4 linked regions of the Homo sapiens genome follow. The protein of the gene in region 1 interacts with the protein of each later gene in a pairwise test. Each region holds a gene or a part of one and is shown in the gene's direction. Other genes may lie near its edges.

Region 1 (4,798 bases):
AACACTTACTATTTTCTTATCTCTTTCACTTTTTAAATATCTTTCACCAGGTTATATTTTGGTATTATTTTTCCAAACATTTTTAAGCACTGAATATCGAACAAGCACTCAAATTGAAGTATCAGTCATGTTTTGTGTATTTTTCGCTGATAAAAATTATTTAACATTTATATTTTTACTTGATTACATATGCACATGTATGTAAATGTAAAATACTAATATTCACTAATATATGTACATAATGATCAATTGGTTTAACTTCTTTTATGTAAGTATGGTATATAAATTTCAAGACGAACACTTTTCTGGCTCTTGGTATTGGTTTGCTTGTTTTGAGTTTGTTTCACTCCAGTTTGCCCCTTCCTAGTCCAGTTTGGGTCAAACTTCATGTTAAACAACTCTGCATTGGTTATGGCGGTAGACATATGGCGGTAGAAAATGTATACGGAGCTAGAGACAACTAACATTCTTGGAAATACTGCTTTTGTTTTACTGTGGACCATTCCTTCCATGCATTGAAATGGAGAAATTCAAAGTAAAAGAATTCTGTTTTTCAAGCAAGCTTAATAAACATTACATTATACACATATTTTTATACATTTCTGGCTTGACCATTTAGTTTACTTTCTCAATTATTGTTAAAATTTTTCTTTTTCCTTTTTTTTTTTTTTTTTTTGAGATGGAGTCTCACTGTGTTGCCCAGGCTGGAGTGCAGTGGCAGGATCTTGGCTCATTGCAACCTCTGTCTCCCAGGTTCGAGCGATTCTCCTGACTCAGCCTCCTGAGAAGTTGGGACTCTGGGCGCGTGCCACAATGTCTGGCTAATTTTTTATGTTTTTAGTAAAGACGGTGTTTCACCGTGTTAGCCAGGATGGTCTTGATCTCCTGACCTCGTGATCCGCCCGCCTCAGCCTCCCATAGTGCTGGGATTACAGGTGTGAGCCACCATGCCTGGCCTTTTTTCCCCCCTTTTGAGACAGGGTCTCCCTTTGTCACCCAGGCTGAAGTGCAGTGGCATAATCATGGCTTACTGCAGCCTTAAACTCCCAGGCTCAAGTGATCCTCCCACCTCAGCCTACAAATAGCTGAGACTACAGATATGTGCCACCATGCCCGGCTAATTTTTGTATTTTCTGTAGAGACAGGGTTTGCCATGTGGCCCAGGCTGGTCTCAAACTTGTGAGCTTGAGCAATCCGCCCACCTTGGCCTCCCAAAGTGCTGAGATTACAGGCCTGAGCCACTGACCCTGGCCAAATTTTTTTTCTACTAGCTACTGAGGCTGCCACATCTGGATGGAACTGAGTGGAGGGGGAAAAGAATGAAAAACTCAAAAGAATTCCCATGAGGGTGTCTTGCTTTCTCTCCTGAGTTACAATACTTTAGCAAAATCATGAGGCTTTAGAGATATGGTGTAGTCTGCAAACTTCTTAATGCCCTTACCCACATTTACCATGTTTCCTGGCCTTCCTCTGTGTCAACTCTTAGCTCTTCCTAATCATTATTTAATACATGAGTGAGTTTAGTAGTGATCATATTTCTCAGGTCCTTTAGAAGCTGGAATTTTAAAAGAATTAGAAGGAGGAGTATGTGAATTCTTTGGAGCTCACTGCCTGACTTGCTTATGACCAGGAAAATCTATCCCCTGTATCTAATTTTAATTTCATGGTTAAATTTGAGAATTGTGGAAACCAAGTTCCACAAGGCTATTCTCATATTTCTCCCAATTTCTTTTTCAGCCAACTCCAAGGATATGTATCACCTTTGACTTAATTTGCTTTCTCTAAGGGAAAGGGGAAAAAATGTTCACATAGCTCCACTGCAATGTTTTTTATAATAGAGGAGAGATATTGTAAATAGAGACTGCCAGCCAGTTTCCACAAAAAAACGAAGAGTTCATAAATTTGACATGTTTGAACCCATAAAGCATTTTCTTTGCTTGGAACCATTATAAAAGTAAGTGAGTTTTCAGGCTCTATATACATTTTAATTCCTCACGTTTTATATTGGAGAGTTCGGTACAGACTGTCCATTACTGCACCAAAAGAATGAGTGAACTGTTACCTATAGGGAAAGAACACTTCTTCTTCCTGCTGTTTGGGAACCATCTCAGTGTGGCGTAATGGTTAGGAGTACAGATTCCAGATCCTGTTTCTTAGATTTAAATCTTGACTCTGCCACATACTAGCTGTCTGACTGAACCTTGGTTTTTCTGTGCTTCAGTTTCCTCATCTGTAAAACGGAGATAACAGTACTTACCTCATAGAGCTGTTGTGAAAAGTGATGACTGAATATGTAAAAGCACCTAGAACAGTGCCTGGCACATGCTAAGTGCTTTGTTCATTATTGTTGTTATTATGTAATTTTCTCTCAGACTGAGAGCACTGTTAGTGACCCAAGTAAATTTATAGTTTTTAAGTACAGAGGAAAAATAAAGCCTATTTTTTGTTAACAGTCTTAATAAATAATAAAATGGAATAAAGAAACCAAGACCCCATCTTCTGTGAATATTAGGGCTTTTTTTTTTTTGACAGTCATAAAGATGTTTTCACTATGGCATTTCTATCCCTGTGTATATCCAAACATGTCCTGAAGAAGAAATGAGATGTTCCACCAAAAACACGTAAGCAGGAAGCAGCTGTTCTGCTCAGCTTGGCAGGTGTTCTTTCCTAATTCTTCCCAAGCTGTGAGTCAGAAAGTCCTGGAAGGAGTTGTAGGAAGTTGTAGAGGCTGGGTCACTGACCTAAGAGAAGGCATCATTTGGCCCACTGCACGTCCTGGCCTATTCACCAAAGCCCTTCCTGGCTCTGACTGCCACACCAGGCAGTGGGTGAAATGCTGGCTTTTTCCTTAAGAAATTGTGTTCTAGTGCCACCAAGAGATGCTGTAGAGCTGGCTTTACCAATCTCATGATGCTTGCTTGGCAACTCTGAAAGGTGACTTTGGCCAAGAAGACCTTGTGGCAATTCTGCAAATTTTATACACTCATATCTTTTAGGGTACAAAATGAAAGAACAAATCACAAAGAACAATAGATCCTTCAGGAGCTGAAGGTAAGAATCTTTTATAGCTATTTTAACATATACAGTGACTACTTTCTACTAGCCAAATATCAAATTTTACAACTACCACCAAGCCACAGATTATAGGTGGTAACAACTCCAGAAATGTCCTAACTAGGAAAGGTGCTCATCTAGTATGCATCGGTATCCAGGATAATATGAGTTAGAATTTTAAAAATGTCAGTCATTCAAAAATATTTGAACTGTGACATCACAGAAGTAATTTTATGGCCTTTTAAGGTAACAACTTAAAAAGAGAACAGTACTCTTTTTATATCAATGCCTTTACATTTATTTAAAAACAGTCCTAATGCTTTATAGTTAAATGTCATATGCAGATATGTTCAGGCTCTAACATATAAAGTTCCTAACTTGACAGGAAACTACTGAAGATTGTGTACAGCTTAAAAAAAAAAATAGGGTAACTATAGTCTTGATTTTTATGTATAAATTCTATCATTCTATATTTTACCATCAGACATATTTCTACTCCTTTCTTTGAAGTATGCGAAGTATCTCCAACTGCAGCATGCAACTCATTCATTTGTAATCAAGACGATAGTTTGAAACACCCAATTGTAATCAGAGCAACAGTTGACTTCCTTTTGATAGCGGAGTTGAAAATCATTGCAATTAATAAAATGGGGCTATTAGAAATGGAAAACGAATAGGATCTAGAATGTAACTTCATCATATAAATGATGAGTGTCTTTGTTATCAACACGTTATTAAGAATGGGCAAGATGTCCTTATATACTAGAAGCTTTTGTAAAGTCATGTGTCTATTGATAATAAAGATTTTCGGAACTGATGTTCTGAGTGAGACTACAAAGGATGCTTTAAAACGAGTGATATCTGGCCGGGCATGGTGGTTCCCACCTATACTCCCAGCACTTTCGGAGGCCAAGGCAGGCAGATCACTTGAGGCCAAGAGTTCGAGACCAGCCTGGCCAACATGGTGAAACCCCTTCTCTACTGAAAATACAAAAATTAGCTGGGCATGGCAGTGCATGCCTGTAATCCCAGCTACCCTGGAGGCTGAAGCACGAGGATCACTTGAACCAAGGAGGCAGAGGTTGCAGTGAACTGAGATCGCACCACTGCACTCTAGCCTTGGCAACAGAGTGAGACCCTGTCTCAAAAAACAAGCAAACAACAACAATAAAACCAGTGATGCCCTGCAAAATGAGGATTGAGAGACAAGTCCCCAACACTATATTTTTTAATTCCTGATGTTTCTTTTTAAGTTACATTTTATATTCTATTTGAAGCATCTATAGACACTTCTTGGACCTCTTCTATTTTTCTTAGTCTATATTTCTATATTTTCATGGTCCTATAGCCAACTCTTTAGACATATCCACTCTTCTGTATCTCAGCATCCCATAATGTTTGATAGAGGGTAAAAATAACAGAGTATACACACACACACACACACACACACACACACACACACAGAATCTACCATCGTCCCCATCCCCTGCTCCTTCTGTCTATCTTAACTTGCAAATGGCAGGATCAATCAACTGCCACCTGCCCAGGTCAGACAATTATCCTCTCTTGCTTCCATTACTTCAGCAGCTTTTAATTGGCCTCTGGCCTCTAGTCTTATCCTCTCCAGTCTAATCTCTGTACAATGCTATAGTACAGCCACAGTGCCTTTTTGTTGTTGTTGTCATTACGCTGTTGTTTTTAATTGCAGTATTATATACATGACTTAAACTTACCATCCTAACCA
Region 2 (6,546 bases), on another chromosome or scaffold:
ACCCCTTTGTGGAGCCATCACATAATTCAGGGTATCTGGTTACTGAAAGCCTTTCTTGCCACAAGAGGTTGTGATTACAAGGCTCAGTGACTGACCAAATAGTCTGCTGCAGGAACTTGCAACCTGGGGCTGGGCCTAGGCCAGGTCTGCTGGACAATATCAGACCTTAATGGACATCCCAAGGTGGCCCTGGCCCCACAGCCAACCATAGCCACCAACAATTTGTCATTATTTTGGCTCAGAAAGCAATGTCACAATGAAAAAAAACCCTTAGAGCTAACATGCCTGTATTAGAAGATGCCTCATTTCCAGGCCTTCCTTTTATGAGTCTATTTATGAACCATCTTTTGTGCTGTGTACATTCTGGGTTTCCAAGCAGGATCAAAAACACAACTGAACTGAGTCATCACCACAAGGTAAAATTTGCCTCATAGTATTTGAAGTTAACTGAAAACACATTTGACATGAAAAAAACAAAGACTGCAACAACCTAATCCTTCAGTTTCTGTTTAATGCACTCACTTGCCATTACTATATTTTAGACCTTACCCTTCATGGAAGGGGCCTGGCAGGCTTCGGAGAAGACAGGGCTGGGTTTACATTTCTGTCACACAATTTACTAACGATGTGATTTCTCTGAGCCTTGGTTTCTCCATCCGGTGATAAAAATATTTACCTTCAGAGGTTATAATGAGGATCAGCAGTAACGCGCGTAAAGCGCTTAGCATAGAACCTGGTGGACAGCAGGCTCTCGGATGTATTTGATAAAGCGTGGTCATACACTGTGAAGCATATAACCACGCCAGCATGTGCACATCATCATCGTAAAGTTTCCAATCCTCAAAGAAAAAAAAAAGACATTCCAACTTTGAACTGTAAGATATACTCACATGAAAGCTTGTTGTAGGTTCCTGGCACTCAATTTTAGGGTCTGCCCCCACTGCCAAATCCAGAAAGAATCAGGCTCTCAAGTTGAAGCTTAGGCCTAGGCAGATGACAGAACATTATGAGGAGGTGTCAGGCTGCTGTGGATCATGACTGTTAGACCAGGTGGCACCTAGCAAACAAAGGGCCAACGGAGGAGAGTAGATACTTGGATCAGAGACTATGAGTGGGATAGAATGAATGGATGGGGGTGCCGGGACTCGACCAGATGGCTAGGGATGGGGAGCAGGACATGACCCCACTGGAGATGGCAGGGTAGGCTCTGCTCTCAGCACCTTTGCACTGGCATATCTAAATAATTCAAGTCAGGGCTCAAACGCCTACCCTGCAGAACCATGCAGAGTGTAAACAAATGAAGATGGCTGCATGTACAGCGGAGGGGTGTGGGTAGGGGGCACTTGTGGCTAAGCAGAGAGCCCTGTACCCCTTCAGAGGGGCACCTGCCACCCAGCCTCAGCTAATGCTTGTCTTGTGAGAGTCAGTGCAAATGTGGGAGATCTGACTTTTCAGAAGTCTCCAATCTGGATTATAAAATCACTCGATTTTTAGGTCTTGGCAACAGATTGAAATTTCTTAAAATGCTGCAAAGGACAGACTAAAGCAACCCAATGGCCATCAGGTTGTAACCTGTGCCCTGAGTGGCCAGAGCAACCAAACAAAATGCCCGCTAGCTCAGCAGCAGCAATGCCACAGACTTCATACCCAGTGGACGGCAGGTGCTCAGCCCACCTGCCACATGCAGTTGTGTCTAGGCAAGGGACACTGCTTGGCATTTTAGTGCTGGACCTACTTGTATGTTTCTTACACTCTCTATGTAAGTGGTGTGGATAGACAGTCTGGCCAAAAAGCAAGGCATCACTCCTTGCTTCCTCTTGTCTATGTTCTTTGTTCTCATTGACTGGTTTCAGCCAAGTGTACACCATTCCCCCTACCTGGCTTCTCACAGCCGGTCATTTTCACTCTTTTTGAAAAGCGTTCCTTGTGGAGCTGTACTCGTGGGCTGTAATCAGCCCCTGGGGCCCTCTCCCATCCCATCACTACCCTGACTTGACCCTTTATAAAGAACTCCCCAGGCAACCTCAGTCACTCTTAAAATATCTCGGAGATAATCCAGTCCCTGGTCCTGCCCTGACAGCTGGGCAAACAGAGGCCCAGAGAAGACAAGTGAGGTGCCCAGGGTCACAGAGCTAATCAGAGGCAGCGCCATCAGGACACCTGCCTACCAGCGGGGATTCCTTCTGTCACCGAGGCCTCACAGAAGAGTCCTCTGCCCTTATTTTGAGCACCTGGTGACTTTGCTGTATAAGAGGTCACCGAATATCATGGAGGGCGAGTCATGCCAGCTGGTTATAGGATCTGAAAAAACTGAATTTGTCACTCTTCATCAGAAAAAGAAGTACTCACAAAATACTGTCACAGGAACCCCACTTGGGTTGCTTTAACTGCCCCCGATTCGGCATCCTCCGAGGTGAATTAGTGTGGTTTTAATTTAATGAAGTCTTCTAAGAAACTCCAGGGCAAATGCCACGAGGCGCTAAAGATCAGACTTTAGTATCACGCTCTCCTTTTGGCAGTCCATGGCCTGCTTCTGAAGGCATCTTAAAATATATTATGGATAAGGGAAGTATGAATAAATAAATGAAGCCTGCTTTCAAGCAGGAGGTTGATTCTCTGGTGCTTCTAATAAGCTTTAACCGACCAGATTTTCACTGTTTGGTTTTTGTTTTTGTTTTTTTGAGACGGAATCTCGCTCTGTCACCCAGGCTGGAGTGCAGTGGCGTGATCTCCACTCACTGCAACCTCCACCTCCCGGATTCAAGCGATTCTCCTCTTTCAGCCTCCCAGGTAGCTGGGAGGTGCCCACCACCACACCTGGTGAATTTTTGTATTTTTTAGTAGAGACAGGGTTTCACCATGTTGGCCAGTCTGGTCTCCAATTCCTGGCCTCAAGTGATCCACCCACCTCGGCTTCCCAAAGTGCTGGGATTAGAGGCATGAGCCACCACGCCCAGCCGATTTTCACTGTTGGAAGGGTCTCTTGCCCTATCTCCCTCCAGCCCCGGCAGTTCATAATACACCTTGCACCTTGTTTCTCAGAACTTCCACACACCTAGAACCTCTTGGGAAGAAGTAAGGGCTCTACCAGAATTTCTTTGCAAGTTACTAAGAAAGGCAGGTTCCCAGATAGTGCATGGGAGATGGGCAGAAAGCATCTCCTGAAAGCAAGGAAGGAGTCTGCTTAGCAAGGAGCACACCTGGCTGCGGGGCGGAGCGTGGTGCAGGGTAACAGTCTTAGCCTACGTCTGATTTTCGTGACAGAGGCCTACCTTCCAGTCACTCCTAAAAGCATGCAATTGAGGAGCAGTAGAGATTCTGGATTTGGGTTTCCTTTTCTTGAGATGCAGTCTTGCTCTGTCGCCCCGGCTGGAGTGTAGTGGCGCGATCTCAGCTCACTGCAACCTCTAACTCCTGGGTTCAAGCAATTCTCCTGCCTCCGCCTCCTGAGTAGCCGGGACTACAGGTGCACCACCACGACTGGCTAATTTTTGTGTAGAGATGGAGTTTTGCCATGTTGGCCAGGCTTTAACCACATGGGCTCCAGGTGCTCTGACTGTATGTGAGAACATAAGGACCTGCAAGCATAGGTATGCACTAGCTGCTGCTGTTCCTAAAGATGAACTGTGGTCAGGCATGCCTCAAGGGCTCTGACTGTAGTCATGAAGAAAAGTATCTCCAAGCATGAGAGGGGCGCTGATCTCTCCCACTGCAACAAGTGTGCTCTGGCCAGGGGGACCCTAGGAGCTCTGACAGAAGTTGGGAAATAAAAGCCCAACACAGGTATAGTGCTGGCCCCTGTGATGGTAAGAGATGTGCTCTGGCATGATGGGTCTCAGCTAATCTGACCACAAGAAGGAACAAAAGTGTTGCCTGGACCTTGATTCTTCTCAATAGGCCTGACTCCTCCAATAGTAACACATGTGCATTCACCCAGCTTGAACTCCCAACCTCAAGTGATCCGCCCACCTCAGCCTCCCAAAGTGCTGGGATTACAGGTGTGAGCCACCGCGCCCGGCCTCATGCCCTAGTCTTGGAAACAAAATTCAGCTCTTGGAACTCCTACCAGAGCTTAGTGTCCTCTGTCCCTCCTTTTCCCCTTTCTCTCCTGCTCCCTCCACCTCCCCCTCTCCTCCCACCCCCTCCATCTCCCTTCCAACTCTTTCTCCCCTCCCCTCTGCCACTTAACAGAATTCAGGCCCCCAAAAGGCTTAATGAACTACAGCTTTCATCTGTTTCAAGTACTGAGTCATGACAGAAAGAATTACCCTGTTTTCTGGGAGAGGAAGAAACGCTTTGGTTATCAGCAGGGCTGGCCAGAGGCCCGGCAGCCTCCAGAAAGGTCCGTGGGATTTGAATGCCAGGGGTGGACATTCATCCAGCTGGACACGTTCACACCCCAGGAGCGCGGTCATGCCAGGGAGAACCTGGGACCAGCCTCCCCCAGATCCGAAACAGCAATCAAGAAGTGGGTGCTTGCTTTCTGGCCATGGTGCTCAGGGGAAAGGCAGCCCAGCCACACTGTAGGAGCTCAGCAGCCATTCATTAGCACAAACAAATTGTGCTAAAATCGAGTTATTTACAGGGTTATTTGCCTTCTCAACAACCCTATGAAGAAGACACCGAGAGTGTCCCCGTTCTACAGAGGCAGCTGTGGGGCACAGTGCTGAGTCACTTTCTGTGGGCGAGAGGGTGACAGTCAGGATGGGAGTGGGCCCTACCTGTGCCCCCAACACCTGCCCCTCAGTGTGGGTTTTCTCCTCCCTGCTCCATCTGCAGGTAAGATCCTGGTTCACTGCGTCATGGGCCGCAGCCGGTCAGCCACCCTGGTCCTGGCCTACCTGATGATCCACAAGGACATGACCCTGGTGGACGCCATCCAGCAAGTGGCCAAGAACCGCTGCGTCCTCCCGAACCGGGGCTTTTTGAAGCAGCTCCGGGAGCTGGACAAGCAGCTGGTGCAGCAGAGGCGACGGTCCCAGCGCCAGGACGGTGAGGAGGAGGATGGCAGGGAGCTGTAGGCCCGACTCACAGGGCCAGCAGAGGCACTTGGGGACAGAGGGGAGAGGCAGAACATAGCCCTGGCCTAGGACTCCAGAGAAGGGATGGTGAAACCGAAGCTCGACTCTTCCAAACCATCTTGTTCAACTTCCCCATGTGTGCTGGGGACAGGGAGGACCCAGAGCTGCCCCCGGGCAGAGCTGAGCGCTCAGCCTCTCAGCAAAATGGGAGGGACGGGCTCCCCGGCTCTGGGTCACAGAGGAGCATGCCACGCTGCACCAAGTCTCCTGCTTTGGTTTTGTTTTTTTGGTGAGAAGGAAGAGGGAAAAGATTTTAAAATGTGTAGGCAGTATGTTGTGATTAAACGTTTGGCTTTGTCTGAAAGGAAAGTCATCTTCTTATAAAAAGTATTTTAAAATAGAAATTGCTTTTCCAACCACAGAACCGTACCAGGTGAGCAGTGTCACGGGAGTGCCTGCGTAGCTGTGGAGGCTCCTTCCCGGGCATCCTGCGTTTCTGTGGCATCCCTTGCACGCCGCTTGTCTTTTCAGCGGAACCCCTAGGCTCACGCCACCATCTCTAGATGTGCTCCTCCAGCAGGGTGGGGAGGGGTCCTGAACCTCTGTACAGAGGCCCCTGCTTTAGGCTTCCCCCACTTTCCCAAGGGACGCAGGGCTCCTCAGACTCTTAGCCAGGGCTGCCACTACTCAGAAAAATTCAATGAATTGTGGTGAGTTTGGACAAGTAGGAGTTTGACTTTCTAATTTTGGGGAAAAAAAGGGAGGAGACCCTCTCTAGCGGGGACCTCAGGGAGGCTCTTTTCACGTGGGTTCTAGTCAAAGCAACACGAGCTGCTTTTCAGTCATAGCAGAAAGTATTTGCAAATTGTTGTCTGCTGTGGAATGGGACGATGGGGCAGCCAGGTAAGCTCAGGTGTGGAGTTTGCCTCCCTGAGAGCTAAGCCAGGCACGATGGCTGCGTGATTTCCACTCTGAAGGAGAAAACGGCAGCAGACATGAAGCGGGTAGTGACAGCTTCCAGGGCCAGGAATCCCAAACCAGACAGAAACCAAAGAGAGTTGCTGCTGTTGGAGATGCCGGCCGTCAAGGACCAGGCATGGAAATGGCCTGGAGAAACCAGAATGTGATAAAGGCCTTCTAGGAAAAAACGAAAAGGGGCCCGGTTCTTCAGTTTGGTTGTAGTTTTCAGCAGAATGAAAGAGGAAGTTATTGATGGGTGGAGGAGAGAGTCCAGGGCCTCAGCAGAAGTGTAAGCCACCTGAGAGTCACCCTGTGACCTTTGGGGATATGCCCTGCTTTTGTGCCCCTGTGGCTAGGCCTGGCTTCCTGGGACTGCCCTGAGTCTGCTCTGAGAGTCGCCTTGGCCCAGGAGGAGCCAAGGCCCTCATGTTAACATGCACACAGGGCTTGGGGGGGCATTCCCCGGGGACTCCCTCATGGTAAGAGCACTGGTCTTCTAATACATTTTGAAACCTGAAACATTGCAAAGGGGTCGCAAAGCAAAAAGGCAGAGATGATACAGAAA
Region 3 (8,500 bases), on another chromosome or scaffold:
CAAAATGAGGCAGGATTTGTGATATTGCTCTGAAAATTGAACAGCACCAGCACCAGGCAAACAGGAGAGATTATGATGCAGATGGCTGTGTGTTGAGTGCTCCCATCACATGAGAGTCCTATGATGCTTCTTCCCTGTGCTGCGAGGGCTTCATCTCCTAAGCACTAAATGCTAAATTCCCCCTCCCACGCCCATCGCCACTGTCCTCACGGATCCTCGCAGCAGCTTCCCAATCGGTCTCCCTGTCTCCAGCCTCACCACCCCCAACTCTCCTCCACCTAGAAGCTAGAGTGGTGTTCCCAAAAAGGAAACATATTTACAGTCAGTCTGTCTCCTGCCAAATTGTAATTTCTGATGGAAGGGGCTTTCTGGGTGTTATTCGCCCATGTGAGCCCGCCTCTAGCGTGGAGCTTGGCACAGGGAGGGTTCAGCATATGTCTGTTAAGTGCCCGGTTATGGATGCAGCCTGTAGGGTTCCACTGGCCTATTGCACTTTCTGTGTCCTGCCAGGATGCGGGTGGCATTCTGGAGGCCTCTCCAGCTGGGGCAGTCCATGAGCTCCAGAAAGTTCACATCAAAGGGGTGGCCCTGGCTCCATGAGGAAGAGTACAGGCTCTGAAATCAGACCCAGGGTTCTGAATACCATTCCCACCTCTCACCAATCAACTATCAATTCTGTGCCTCAGTTTCTCGTCTGTAAAATGAGAATGATAATAATGCCTGCTAATAGGGTCATTTTTGTATTAAATAACTGAGAATATTGCCTGAAATCCTTGCCAACCCACATTATTTTGAAACAAGTCTCATTTCATCCATAAATATGGCAGCATGTGTCTCCACTAGATAAGAGCTCTCACACACACAATACCACTATCACACCTAAAGTATTAACAATAATTCCATAATATCATCCAACCAGTGTTCAAATTTCTCTAATTGTCTCATAAACAATTTTGTCATTTTGTTCAAATCAGGACTGAATAAGGTCCATCTATTGCAAGAGACTGATAGGGGTACTGGGATTCTTTTGATCTATAGCAGGGGTTGGCAGACTTTCACTGAAAAGGGTTAGACAGCAAGTATTTTGGTCTTTGTGGGCCCTTCTGTCTTTGTTGCTATGACTTAAACGAATGGCTATGGCTGTGTTTCAATAAAACTTTATTTATAAAAACAGGCAGTTGGCCAGATTTGGTCCCAAGAAGGCAGATTGCTAACCTGTGATGTACAGGCTTGTTCAGATTCAGGGTTTTTTTGTTTTGTTTTGTTTGGCGATAACATGTCATAGATGGGTAGCATTGCGGATTTCCATCCGAAGGCTTAGAATGTCAGGGTGTTTCTCTTTCCCTCTCCCTCTAATATTATCAGCCATGTACATTCGGTGTCCAGATTCATTAACTCATTAAGGGAAGTAAAATGGCAACATTCTAATTCTATCGTCCCTTCATTTATTAGCTGCAATACTTTTACAAAGAGAAACTCGCCTTTATCTACTATTTGCTTATACTGACGTATAGTTTGTACAGGAAAGTTAAGATAATACATGCTTGATCCCTTTCCTTTCTTTACCAGCTTTTAAAAATAATGAGTTGGGCTTCTTAGCATTCTTCAAAGATAATCAATGTACTTTTAAAAAGAACATTATGAGCAAATAGATTTCAACATAATTGAAGTGTTTTGAGGCATTGCAGTTACTGCCTTTAATGATGTTTAAATTGTCTCCGTTTTGCCCCAGCTTATGACAAGACCTCAGAAGTCTTTGATAACATCCTTGCTTTCTGGTGTGATGAGATATTCTAGGGTTATCTTATTCAGTTTATAAAATCAGCCTTCTCCAAAAAGCCCTGGTTCTCTCTGGAGGGAAGTGATATTTAGTAACCCTAATATGATACTAAGGATACTTATTGTTTCCAGAACTTTTCAGTAGATATATCAAAGGATCATTTTTTTAAAGGCCTCAGAAATACAGAATTCAGAATACTGAAATTTCTGAATCAGTTCAGGACCACAGCTGGCGCCTCTATGGGTAAGGTAAGTATGTGGGAGGTAAGATCCCCCATGATCAAAGCTGTTTGCGTCCCTCGGCCCAGCCCGATCAAACTTCTGGATGCCATCAAAGAGATCTGCCTAACCTAAAGATCATTGTTCTTTAAAAGAAAAACAAGTTCATTAATCATGTGAGGAGGCTTGGGGCCAGGATATAAAGTTAATGACAAGGGACTCCCTTCTATTAAAAGGACTATGTGCAAACAGGCATGCCTGGAGGAAGCCAAGGACCACGATAAAGGAAAACAAACACCTTATGATTCATCTAACATAGGCCCGGTTACAATCGCAGGTGTAAAAGGAACTGGGAGCTGGCAGTGAGAGACAACAAACATCAGTGGAACATGGGATGGTGACTCTTTCTGGCTGAGCGCCACACGTTCCTACCAGGAATCTTCTATTAGTCATTTGGGCTGGAGAGTGAGATCCTTCCTCGCTCTCCACCGTCCAGGGTCATGTTTAATGGTGATGTTTGTTCTTTCCAAGGAGAGAAGGCCCATCTAATTGCAGGGCTTTTGTTTTCCTGAATGGACTCAGGAAGGCCATGGCTGAAAACGAGGGTGCTGAGAGGCTGTAAGGAGAAGGGAAGGAGTTGGAGGCTCTGGTGGAGTGAGGAAGAGCAGGGCAGTATCCCATGTCCTCTGATGTTAGGGGTGAGGTCAGGAGGGTGGGTCTCACCTTCTCCTTTCTCTGCCCTGCATCGGTCACCATGGTTTAAAAATCAATGCTATTCCATGAGAGGGCTGCCACTTATCATTTCAGTTCCAACACCTGGAAAGTAAAATTATTGTCTCCCAAATCCACCCAGCACCATAGGCTTGAATAGGGATCATATGCTCTAAGACCATTCATGAAAACAGAGACAACCAAGGAGACAGTCACCCAATGCTGTCCCTTCAGCTTGCATTATTTTCTGACAAGACAGCTCTGCCATCCATGGAAGCCTGTGTGCTCCTCCATCCCTGGATCTTTATGCATCCTTTTCCCCACAAACCCAAACCATCCCTCTTAAAATGAAAAGCTTAGGAATACTCACCCTAGACTGAGTCACGCGTTTCTTGTACAAACTTTAATTAGACTTGATTTTTTAAAAATTTCCCTTGTGGCTTTTAATTATTAGACAGAGCAAATGTCTCTAGTATTAAACTTATATGTCACATAGCCTCTTTATCAATGGCCCTAATACATTTCATGTGCTTTTCAGAAAGATTATATTCTTCCCAGAGCTGTCTGAATGTCTTTTTGAACCCCTCAAGACTGGACACCAAGGAGTATAAATAATCATTTTAAAAAAAATCACATTCCCTCCACAACCTTGAATCTGAAACGTGAATATATGAATAGAAGGGCTCTGGAATAACTATGCAGATTTATGGAGAATATCAACTTAAGTTATATCACGGGATCCAGCTATGCCTTTCTTCATGGAGTTGGGGATTTGTTAAAGTTGAGATATAGTTTGGGGGAAGTGTGATTTATGGTTAAAGTCATCTGAAAATCAATACATTTGAAGATCTCTGACATAAAGGTCCCTTGCAGAGCTAGACGTGATTCTAAAATTGGGAACACAGGAATAAAAATCAAATCTTGAGTAGAAGTAGCTGAAAATTGCAGTGATTCGGGGAAGCTTGGCTTCTAACTCCCCACTGTTTGAAGATGGGCTTGTTTGTTTTTTAAAACAGCCAACATAATTCAGCTGGAGGAGGTACAAAGAATTTTCTATTCCTTGTTTCTGTAGAAATCGATGGACTTTAGCTTGTCTAATTGTCCCCCCTGCCTTTAGTATCTAAAATAAAATAACCCTCGTTGCTTGCATTACTCAACGCATTTCTGCGTCTTGGCGTCTATGGCTAAACGAGTATTAATTAGACAGTCCGCAGAGAGCTGGCTGGGGATAGAAGGGGAGGTGGGGGAGAAGGGCAGGGATCACAGCAGGGTGGACTCGTGGCCCTGATTTGGGATCCTGACAGCAACTTACTAGGTGGCCTGAGGGCTGGGTGCCAGGGGAGGCAGCGGGTTCCAGTAGCATCTGACCTGCATTAGGGACAGGGGCGCGGCGGAGGGGGCGAAGGGGGCGGGGGTGGGGGGAAGGTGGCTGGGGTGAAGCCCAGCTTCGCAGCTAGCTGTGGGCAACAGAGGGAGTAAGGGGGGGCAATGAGGCTGGGGCCAGGCGCCAGCAGCAGCCACGCCCCCCACCTCCCCCGATTTTTAGGGAAAATTCTCCAAAGCTCTCGCATCCTCCTCTGCCTCCTTCCACCCTCCACCCTCCCAGCCTCCACTGAGACCTCTTTAAAACCACCCAGGGGCCGCCGGGGGATGAGGCCGGGGAACGGGCTGGACTGAGGGCGGGGGCTCGGGGGCAGCGGACGGGAAACGCCTCGAAAGCAGCCAGACCCGGCGACTGAAATGAGGCGGAGGAGCTTGGCGAGGGGAGGCGCAGGCTCGGAAAGGCGCGCGAGGCTCCAGGCTCCTTCCCGATCCACCGCTCTCCTCGCTGACCTCCGAGTCACCCCCGGAAGCTCCCGCCACTGCCGGGCGAATAGACCCCCGCGGACCCCCAAGCGCGCGGGGCCGGGGCCCTAGTTCAGGCCCTCGCTGCCCCTTTAAGGGTTCTCGAAACTTTCCCCCCGGTATCAGATGAGCCTCGTCACATCCGTTGGCCGTGGCCGCTGGGGCGCTTTCCGAGGAAATTCGGGACTCGAGTTTCCCGGGGAAGAGGCGCGGCCTGAGCCCGGCGAGGGTGGGGAGGGCAGGCGCAGGTGGACCCCGGCGCCCCCCGAGCCCCGCTGTGACCTTGGCCGCGGGGGAGGGGCTGGGCCGCTGCGGGGCAGTCGCGGCCGCCAGAGGGGGCAGCGGAGAAGAACTTGCCCAACTTGGCGGCGCGGGCTGGGGCGGCTCTGCGCCTCCGCGCCCGCCTCCCCGGCCTCCGCCTTCTCCCCTCCCGCGAGCCTCCTCCCCTCCCGCGAGCCTCCTCCCCTGGGCCCTCCTCCCGTCCTCCCCGCCGCCGCCGGTCCCGGTGCGCGCCCATCCCTGCCCGCAGCCCCGCGCGCCGGCCGAGTCGCTGAGCCGCGGCTGCCGGACGGGACGGGACCGGCTAGGCTGGGCGCGCCCCCCGGGCCCCGCCGTGGGCATGGGCGCACTGGCCCGGGCGCTGCTGCTGCCTCTGCTGGCCCAGTGGCTCCTGCGCGCCGCCCCGGAGCTGGCCCCCGCGCCCTTCACGCTGCCCCTCCGGGTGGCCGCGGCCACGAACCGCGTAGTTGCGCCCACCCCGGGACCCGGGACCCCTGCCGAGCGCCACGCCGACGGCTTGGCGCTCGCCCTGGAGCCTGCCCTGGCGTCCCCCGCGGGCGCCGCCAACTTCTTGGCCATGGTAGACAACCTGCAGGGGGACTCTGGCCGCGGCTACTACCTGGAGATGCTGATCGGGACCCCCCCGCAGAAGGTAGGGACCCCCGGCTGCTGCCGCGGGCTTTTCGGGCTCGTTGGAGGGAGGGGGCTGTCCAGAGACGCCTCCACGCGGCTTAGCGTCGCCCCCAAAGCAGCAGCTGTCCCCGCACAGAAGAGCGGGGAACGCAGAGGGGCTCGGGTGGGCCGGGGAGCGGGGGCGCTCGCTCTTGAGTCGCGGAGGACGGCAGCCCCCGCCCGGGGCGCACTGAGGGGTGTGCGCGAGTGTTTCAGAACTTGTGAGCTCCCCCTCCGCGGGGCTGGGCGGGAGAGGAGACCTGGAACTTGCCGCCTCCAATAACGTGATTTCCTTCTTGCGGGCGACACCTACTTCCAGCGGGAGACGGAGCGGTGGGCCTTGGGCGACGGGCTATTATGGGGAAAATCACCTCGTGTTCATACCCTCCCTCCCCCCCGCCCCCCCCCCACCCCACCACCATGCTGTCTCATTGCTAAAGAGGCTCGTGGCCGGCTTCCAAAGGCGCAGTACCCTTTAAAAAGGATTTATGCATGAGCTCAGCTAAAAGCAACCCGGTTAAGAAGTGGCTCGCTTGCTGCTCTGAGGAAGGAGCAGCGTCTCCCCTGCGCCCGCTTTCCTTTCTCGGAGTTGGTTTGTCAGCTGTGTCCTCGCTCATCCGGCGGCCCTGCCCCTCTGCACGGAGCGATGCATCTACACGCGGGTGTGCAGAGTGTGAAAAGCATTCCAGCTACCGGGAAAAAAACAGGGGCTGAGTGAGGTGTCCGGGGACCAAGTGGTATCCCGATTACAACACAAAAATAAAATCAAACAGCTTTCCTTTTCTCTTACTCTGATGTTCATTTACTAACACTTTTTGTAGCAAGAAACAAATGTTCCCAAGCACAGTGATCTGAAAAAAAAAAAAAAAAAATCCCAATTGATCTGCCCCCTCCTACTTTCAAACTGTCTAATCCAAGTGGGATTTGAAGTCCTTTGCTCAATTGAATGCACTATTTGAAGATAGTTTATTTTTATTTTTAACATTGTCATTTGGGTTTTGATTCAGCTATGATTCCCCCATAAATAGAACATACTCATGACTTTTGTATAATTCTCATTAAATTATTCAAGACTTTAAGAGGAAAGACATGCCATGCTAATTCTTTTAAAAAAGGAAACTGCCGAATAACTTCTGTAGTTGTTTAATTAGTTTAGGGGGAAAAAAAAACCTTCAAAAGCGTATATTCAAACTTTGATTCTAGTTGCCTTTCGTCTAAGTCATGGGAAGCCACGTGAGTGATCTTTGCCATCTCCAGGAGTGGATGGTTAGAGGGAGGGAATAGGAATCCCCATCAGCTGAGGGAGCTTAACTTGGCTGTAAGATGTGGTCTTGGTGCAGCCAACACGTGGGAACATGTGCCTGGTGCTGAGAACCTTGGAAATATGACAAGATATTGAGGAAGAACCTCTTCTGTGACCTGCAGAGAATCTTTTGGAACAGGCCTTGAATGAATCCCCATTGGACATGTGTGCTTTGATGCGAGGGAATTCTCTCTACTAAAAGTAAATGTGGGTGGTCTGAGGGCTATGATAAAAGAAGCCCTGAAACCCTCCCTCCAGAGCAAAGGGGAAAGGGAGAAGCCTGAAGAAGGACTAAAAAATACTTAACTTTGGCAATCAAAAAAAAAAAGCTTTTATAAATAATAACTTGCCTGTTAATTAATTCAATGACCTTTATTTTAAAATGATGAGGTTTAATTAATTTAATTAACAGAAATGTATTGAGTACCTAGGCTCCTGTCTTTACCGTAGCCAAGGCAGTAGTTGGTTCAAGATTACTTCTCAACCATTAGCATGTTTCCAGGGAGCGCTGCTTCTACAGAGACAGATTTAATTTTTACATGTGATGGGGAATGAAATATCCTGTACCTCCCTCCTGGCTTGATTTAGCGATAAGCTGCTTTATAACCAAATCTTTCCAAATGCCTACTGTAAAGTCAGGCTTTCCTGACTACTGCATTAGGATTCACTACCTGCCTGTGTTGCCCTGAAATGTCTCTGACCACCAGCAGGGTGTCAGCAGCCGGCTAGAGGGGGCAGCAGTGAGGTGACTTCTGAACCTGGAGTGAGCTTTCCTGCTCTATTAATGGCCAGGAGTCATGCATTTATTCTCTGCTGATTCTCTGAAGCCTAAAATAAAAATTGCTTAGGTGGAGAGAAAAATGGAATTGTAAATTCAAGCAATAAATAACCAAGAATTTTTCAAGAATTAAGTAATAGTCATAGACAATGTCTGAAAGCTCAGTACGTGACAAGCACTGCGCTCTGTGCTTTAGGTGTGCTTTCCCAGGAATCCCCACCCACCACCCACCACCCCTCGGGGGTCTTATACGCATTTGGGGGTGGGAAAACTGAAGCTCGGAGAGACTGAATGACTTTCCAGGGCAACAGGGCAAGAAAGAGGGAGGGCCAAAAATGGAAGCCAGGGAGCTGAACTTCAGAAGCCAAGTTCTGAACCACCAGACAGATAACGACTTCCTTCCCTTCATGCCTCCTGATCTCTTTGGTTTTGGCCTCAAACTACCCTTTCTAGCCAGAGAACCCTGAACGTACACCCCAAGGTGTTAGGGACTTATTGTATGACTGCAACTGGACCCTCCGGAACTCCGTGCTGTTCCCCCATCTCCTCTTTCCTTCAGCACTGCTGAATGAGCAACAGAATGAAGGGCTGGATCCAGGTGTGCACGGGAGAGGCCTTGAGAGGAGAGGTTCAACAGGAACCAGAGCCCTCCAGCTCCCCTTCTTTTATGGGAAAGTCAACTGTTGGAAGTGTGCTTGTTCCCCGAAGGCTTTAATCAGGAACTAGAGGTCCATTGTTTAAAGCCCAGTGACTCTGTGAGGAGTCACAGGCATGTGCCCGGAAGCCCGCCTGAGAGCTGCAAGGCGTGTGTGCTGGCAGGCAGGGCCACGTTGGCATGGAGATGACTGCCAGGTTTGCGGCTGATCCCATTATGTGGGTTCTTTCGAACTGTAGAACTTTTGAACAGTTCTTTC
Region 4 (4,127 bases), about 110 Mb from region 1:
TGTTGCCCAAGCTGGAGTACAGTAGTGCAATCTCAGCTCACTGCAACCTCCACCTCCCAGACTCAAGCCATCCTCCCACCTCAACCTCCCAAGTAGCTGGGACTACAGGCATATGCCATCACACCCAGCTAATTTTTGTTTTTCTGTAGAGACAGGGTTTCACCATGTTGGCCAGGCTGGTCTCAAATTCCTGACCTTAAGTGATCCACCTGCCTAGGCCTCTAAAATGCTGGGATTACAGGCGTGAGCCACCACGCCCAGCCTATACCCCATGTATTTTCATAAAGGGTTGGAAACTATTGATTGCCAACTTTTTAAGGATGGTAGGGATTTTTTCTTTGTTGAATATACTGTGAATTTTGGGATTCTGGAGTCCTTAGTCTTCATTTCCATTCTTCTGCCCATGATTACTGATCAAAATACTGGTAGAGTCATGGAGGAAGTAAGTTAAATGTGGAAAAAATGCTTTAAAAGTACTTACTATAACCACATCATAAGAATTCTGGAAAAATAGAGAACAAAAGGAAAAGATTGTTACCACCTTGATTTAATAACTTCTTGTTTCCCCATACATGTGTTTTGTTTATAGATTGCATGGGTATATGTCAATTTTTATATGTTCTGTGTTTAGTTTACATATTGTAATTCATTTTTAAGAGAGTACAGACATACACTTTTTGAGTAGGCAATATGTTCACATAGTTTGAAATTAAAGGTACAAAATGGCGTAGAATGAAATGCCTCTCACCCTTTCCCCACAGCGACTACTTCCCACTCAGAGGCAACAAGTATTACAGTTGCTTGTATATTCTTCCAGAGATCTCTGTCTATACAAGCAAAAACACATGTGGTCTTTTTCCTTGCTTTGCACAAATGGTAAACTGTACGCTATTCTGAACCTTGCTTTTTTCAGATATATGTTGGCAACAGTTCCATGTCAGTACATAGTTTCCTTTCTTTATTACAGCTGCCTGTTTTTTCATTGTGTATTTGCACCATCATTTACTTTTCTGGCTTACTTTTGATAGAAATCTAGGTTGGTTCAAACCTTTTTACTCTTAAAACAATGCTGCAGTTAACACCCTTGTACATATATCTTTAGAGAGAAGATATTTTAAAAAGAAATACCTTTTTAAAAATTATTTTATTATTTTTTAATAGAGACTATGTTGCCTAGGCTGGTCTTGAAATTCTGGGCTAAAGCAATCCTACCACCTTGGCCTCCCAAAGTGCTGAGATTACAGGCATGAGCCATTGCACCTGGCCAAGAAGAGACATCTTGACTTGAGCCTGAAGACTATGTACAGAGACTGACCTCACAGACTGACCATTCCATCCCACAGCTGCTGGACATAGAGTGATTTGCAGCCCCTCCTTTCAGAGTACCACATCCCTCTCAAGTGTTCCACAACATCTAGGAAAGTGAGCTCTTAAAGACAGACTAAAAAGAGTAATAAATCAATACAACAACATTAAAAGCCAGACTAGCGGAGTTTGAATCTTGGCCCTGCTGTTAGTAACTGTGTGAGCCTTGGGCAAGTTACTCAGCCTCCTTGTGTCTTGGTTTTGGTTTCTTCATCTCTAAGTAATTATATCTGTCATTATTGCCCTGATCACAAACAAAAGCCTGAATGTACTATGTTTAAAAGACAAACCAAAAATTAACCCAAACTTGCATTATTTGTCTGAGCTACAGAATGTTCTTTCCTTGGAGAGATATCTGATATTAAACATCATCTGCATTTTACTTGCCTAGAAAATACACGGTAACTTTTCTGCCTTGCAGCATCAAACTATAGTACAGCTGAGCCCCAGTGCTGTGCAGTCTGACTCTAATTAAAGGCACCTTCTTTACAGCAGGGCTCTGGGGAACTGGAAAAGGGGGTTTGTTTCATTATCTGGTTTTATTAAGCAGATGAATGCAGCCAGCTATATGAAGCACTTTGCAGTGAATGGCAGGTGTCCCATATCTGGTTATGTTAACCTAGAAAGGGCTCACTCTACCTCTAGGCATGTTTCATCCCAACAATCAGACTGTGCCAAAGCAGGGGACTTTGTCCTTTGTGGATTGCATAGCTGGATACCCATCATCTGTTTCTCTGATTGGAAGCTGCTGTTGTACAGAAAGACCTGCATTTCCCCCTTGTCTCCAGTTCTCTCACTACTTTTTCCTCCTCTGTGAGTGACCATCCAGGCAGTCACCATAACTGCTGGAGTGTCTGGGATTGGTAGCTCTCTCCAACTGCCTGCTTGCTCTTTACAGCCTCTCTCTGTGACTGGAATCTCTCCACCTCATCGTATCTAAGGATAACCCAGAAACATGGGGTGTCCTAGGTATGTTTATCTCGACACTGAACCCCCTAGGCTTCTGATGAATCCAGTGATTAGCTAAATTTGACATAGAAAGTAAGAAGGAATGTCTACTTTGTATTGTGGTCCTAATCTAAGATCAGGAGAATCCTGGAATTGTTATCTGTCTCTTGCTCTGAGATACAGACTTGTTCATAGGTGTGGGGCCTGATTGGAACAGGATCTGCCATTGGTCACAATAGGTCAAGGGCTTGTTCTGAACCCTAGTTAGCTTCATTCAGAGAAAGAAACTTCCTACCTGGTCAGCTTTTTCAGCTTCTCCAACAAATGGGAGTTGAGGCAGTAGGAGTGTGGGGTTCTTGGGAAGACGATGGGGCCTTGTATTAAGGAGAAATAATGAACTATCTTCTTGATTCTTCCATTGAGAAAAGCATATGAATCCTAGGAAAGGGCTCAGCCTGTGATAGGCATTCAATAAATACTCCAATGCTGTCATTCCTTTGTCTACAGCATCCCCAAACAATGTACCAGTGATGGGCTACCTGAGCTCATCTAGTCGCCAAGCAGTATCTCCTGCTTGCTGCTGCTTTACTACATTCCAGATGCCCACCTCATCCAATTTCCAGAGCCACTATCTCTGCTGTCCACTTTCCTTCAGGCTCTGTGAATACTTCAACCTGCTGTGATTTGGGGCCGTTTGTACTCTGCATGTATTCAATAAATTCAATTCAGCAATAGTTATCAAATGCCCATTTTCTTACTAGGCACTGCTCTAGGTGTTTGGTATGGCAATGAGCAAAACACAACCATTGTGAGCTGATGTTCTAGAAAGGTGTCAAAAGCGTTTCAAAGGTTTTATGAGATGCTGTGGGAGGGGGTTACGCACTGCTACCTACTGAGGTAGCAATGTTGGGTGTTTCCTCACATTCCTCAACCTCCACGCAGGAGATCCAGCAGGCTACGCTGGCCCATCCCAAGATCCAGAACTGGCGTTTCACATCTCTAGGACCTGGGTAGCCCAAGCCTTTGCAGCCTGCTGCTTTTACCACCACCCACCGGCCCTCAGGATGTAGGGACCAGTTCCTTAGAGATCAAGCTGTCCTGGGCCTCTACCCAGCTCTACCCAGGGGCCTTCAAGGGCATCTCTGTGGCAGGTTTCAGGGCAAGTTTGGCCTTTTAGCATGGAGAATAGGCCCTGAAGCACCACATACCACTGTCCTGTGTAGGCAGGCACCCAGGAGACCTCTGTGGAAGCCTCAGGTACTTCAGCCAAGGTAAGCACAGATGAATGTTTCTGATGCAAATATTGGCACCAAACTTAACCTAGTGGTGGATGGGGCTGGACAAGTTTTCAGGACCATGAGCCTTTGTGAGTTTCAGCCTGGCTATGAGGGTGCTCTCCTGATCTCAATTCCTGCCCGTCTTCCCTGGGCCTCTCCCAGTGCCGCCCTGGCTCTGCAGCTGATGGTGTGCGTCTCTTCCCAACTCTACATTCAGTGAGGTCATGTTGGTAGTTTGAAATCAGCCATGGTGGTAGTATTCACACCATGGAAATTGGCAAACGCTGTAAGTTGGAGCTTTCCCCACCCCTGGATAGGCGGTTAAACACTCACCAGAGCATCACTGGCATCTCCCCACATGGTTGACTCCTGAAGCCTGCTCACCCCAGGTCTTCCCTGTTCTTGTGAGAAAGCCACCATTCAGTCTAAGAATGCTTCTCCTTCCTGGTGCTCTGGAATTGCCCAGCATGGTAGCAGCGTCACTACAGAGGCAGGAGAACGGCTCTTCCAAAAACTTGAGGCCACATTTTGGCACCT

What was found.
Region 2: the proteins of STX11 (region 1) and DUSP29 interact in binary tests that used the Homo sapiens proteins (3 or more experiments, as listed by UniProt).
Region 3: the proteins of STX11 (region 1) and BACE2 interact in binary tests that used the Homo sapiens proteins (3 or more experiments, as listed by UniProt).
Region 4: the proteins of STX11 (region 1) and RNF8 interact in binary tests that used the Homo sapiens proteins (3 or more experiments, as listed by UniProt).

What each region holds. Positions count from the first base shown.
Region 1 is NC_000006.12:144,188,069-144,192,866, forward strand, and holds the end of STX11 (syntaxin-11), read left to right. Parts: 3' UTR 1-3,871; downstream 3,872-4,798. UniProt on the Homo sapiens protein: SNARE that acts to regulate protein transport between late endosomes and the trans-Golgi network.
Region 2 is NC_000010.11:75,036,311-75,042,856, reverse strand, and holds the end of DUSP29 (dual specificity phosphatase 29), read left to right. Parts: intron 1-4,779; coding exon 4,780-5,021; 3' UTR 5,022-5,385; downstream 5,386-6,546. UniProt on the Homo sapiens protein: Dual specificity phosphatase able to dephosphorylate phosphotyrosine, phosphoserine and phosphothreonine residues within the same substrate, with a preference for phosphotyrosine as a substrate. Involved in the modulation of intracellular signaling cascades.
Region 3 is NC_000021.9:41,163,091-41,171,590, forward strand, and holds the start of BACE2 (beta-secretase 2 isoform A preproprotein), read left to right. Parts: upstream 1-5,069; 5' UTR 5,070-5,173; coding exon 5,174-5,485; intron 5,486-8,500. UniProt on the Homo sapiens protein: Responsible for the proteolytic processing of the amyloid precursor protein (APP).
Region 4 is NC_000006.12:37,391,688-37,395,814, forward strand, and holds the end of RNF8 (E3 ubiquitin-protein ligase RNF8), read left to right. Parts: 3' UTR 1-3,047; downstream 3,048-4,127. UniProt on the Homo sapiens protein: E3 ubiquitin-protein ligase that plays a key role in DNA damage signaling via 2 distinct roles: by mediating the 'Lys-63'-linked ubiquitination of histones H2A and H2AX and promoting the recruitment of DNA repair proteins at double-strand breaks (DSBs) sites, and by catalyzing 'Lys-48'-linked ubiquitination to remove target proteins from DNA damage sites.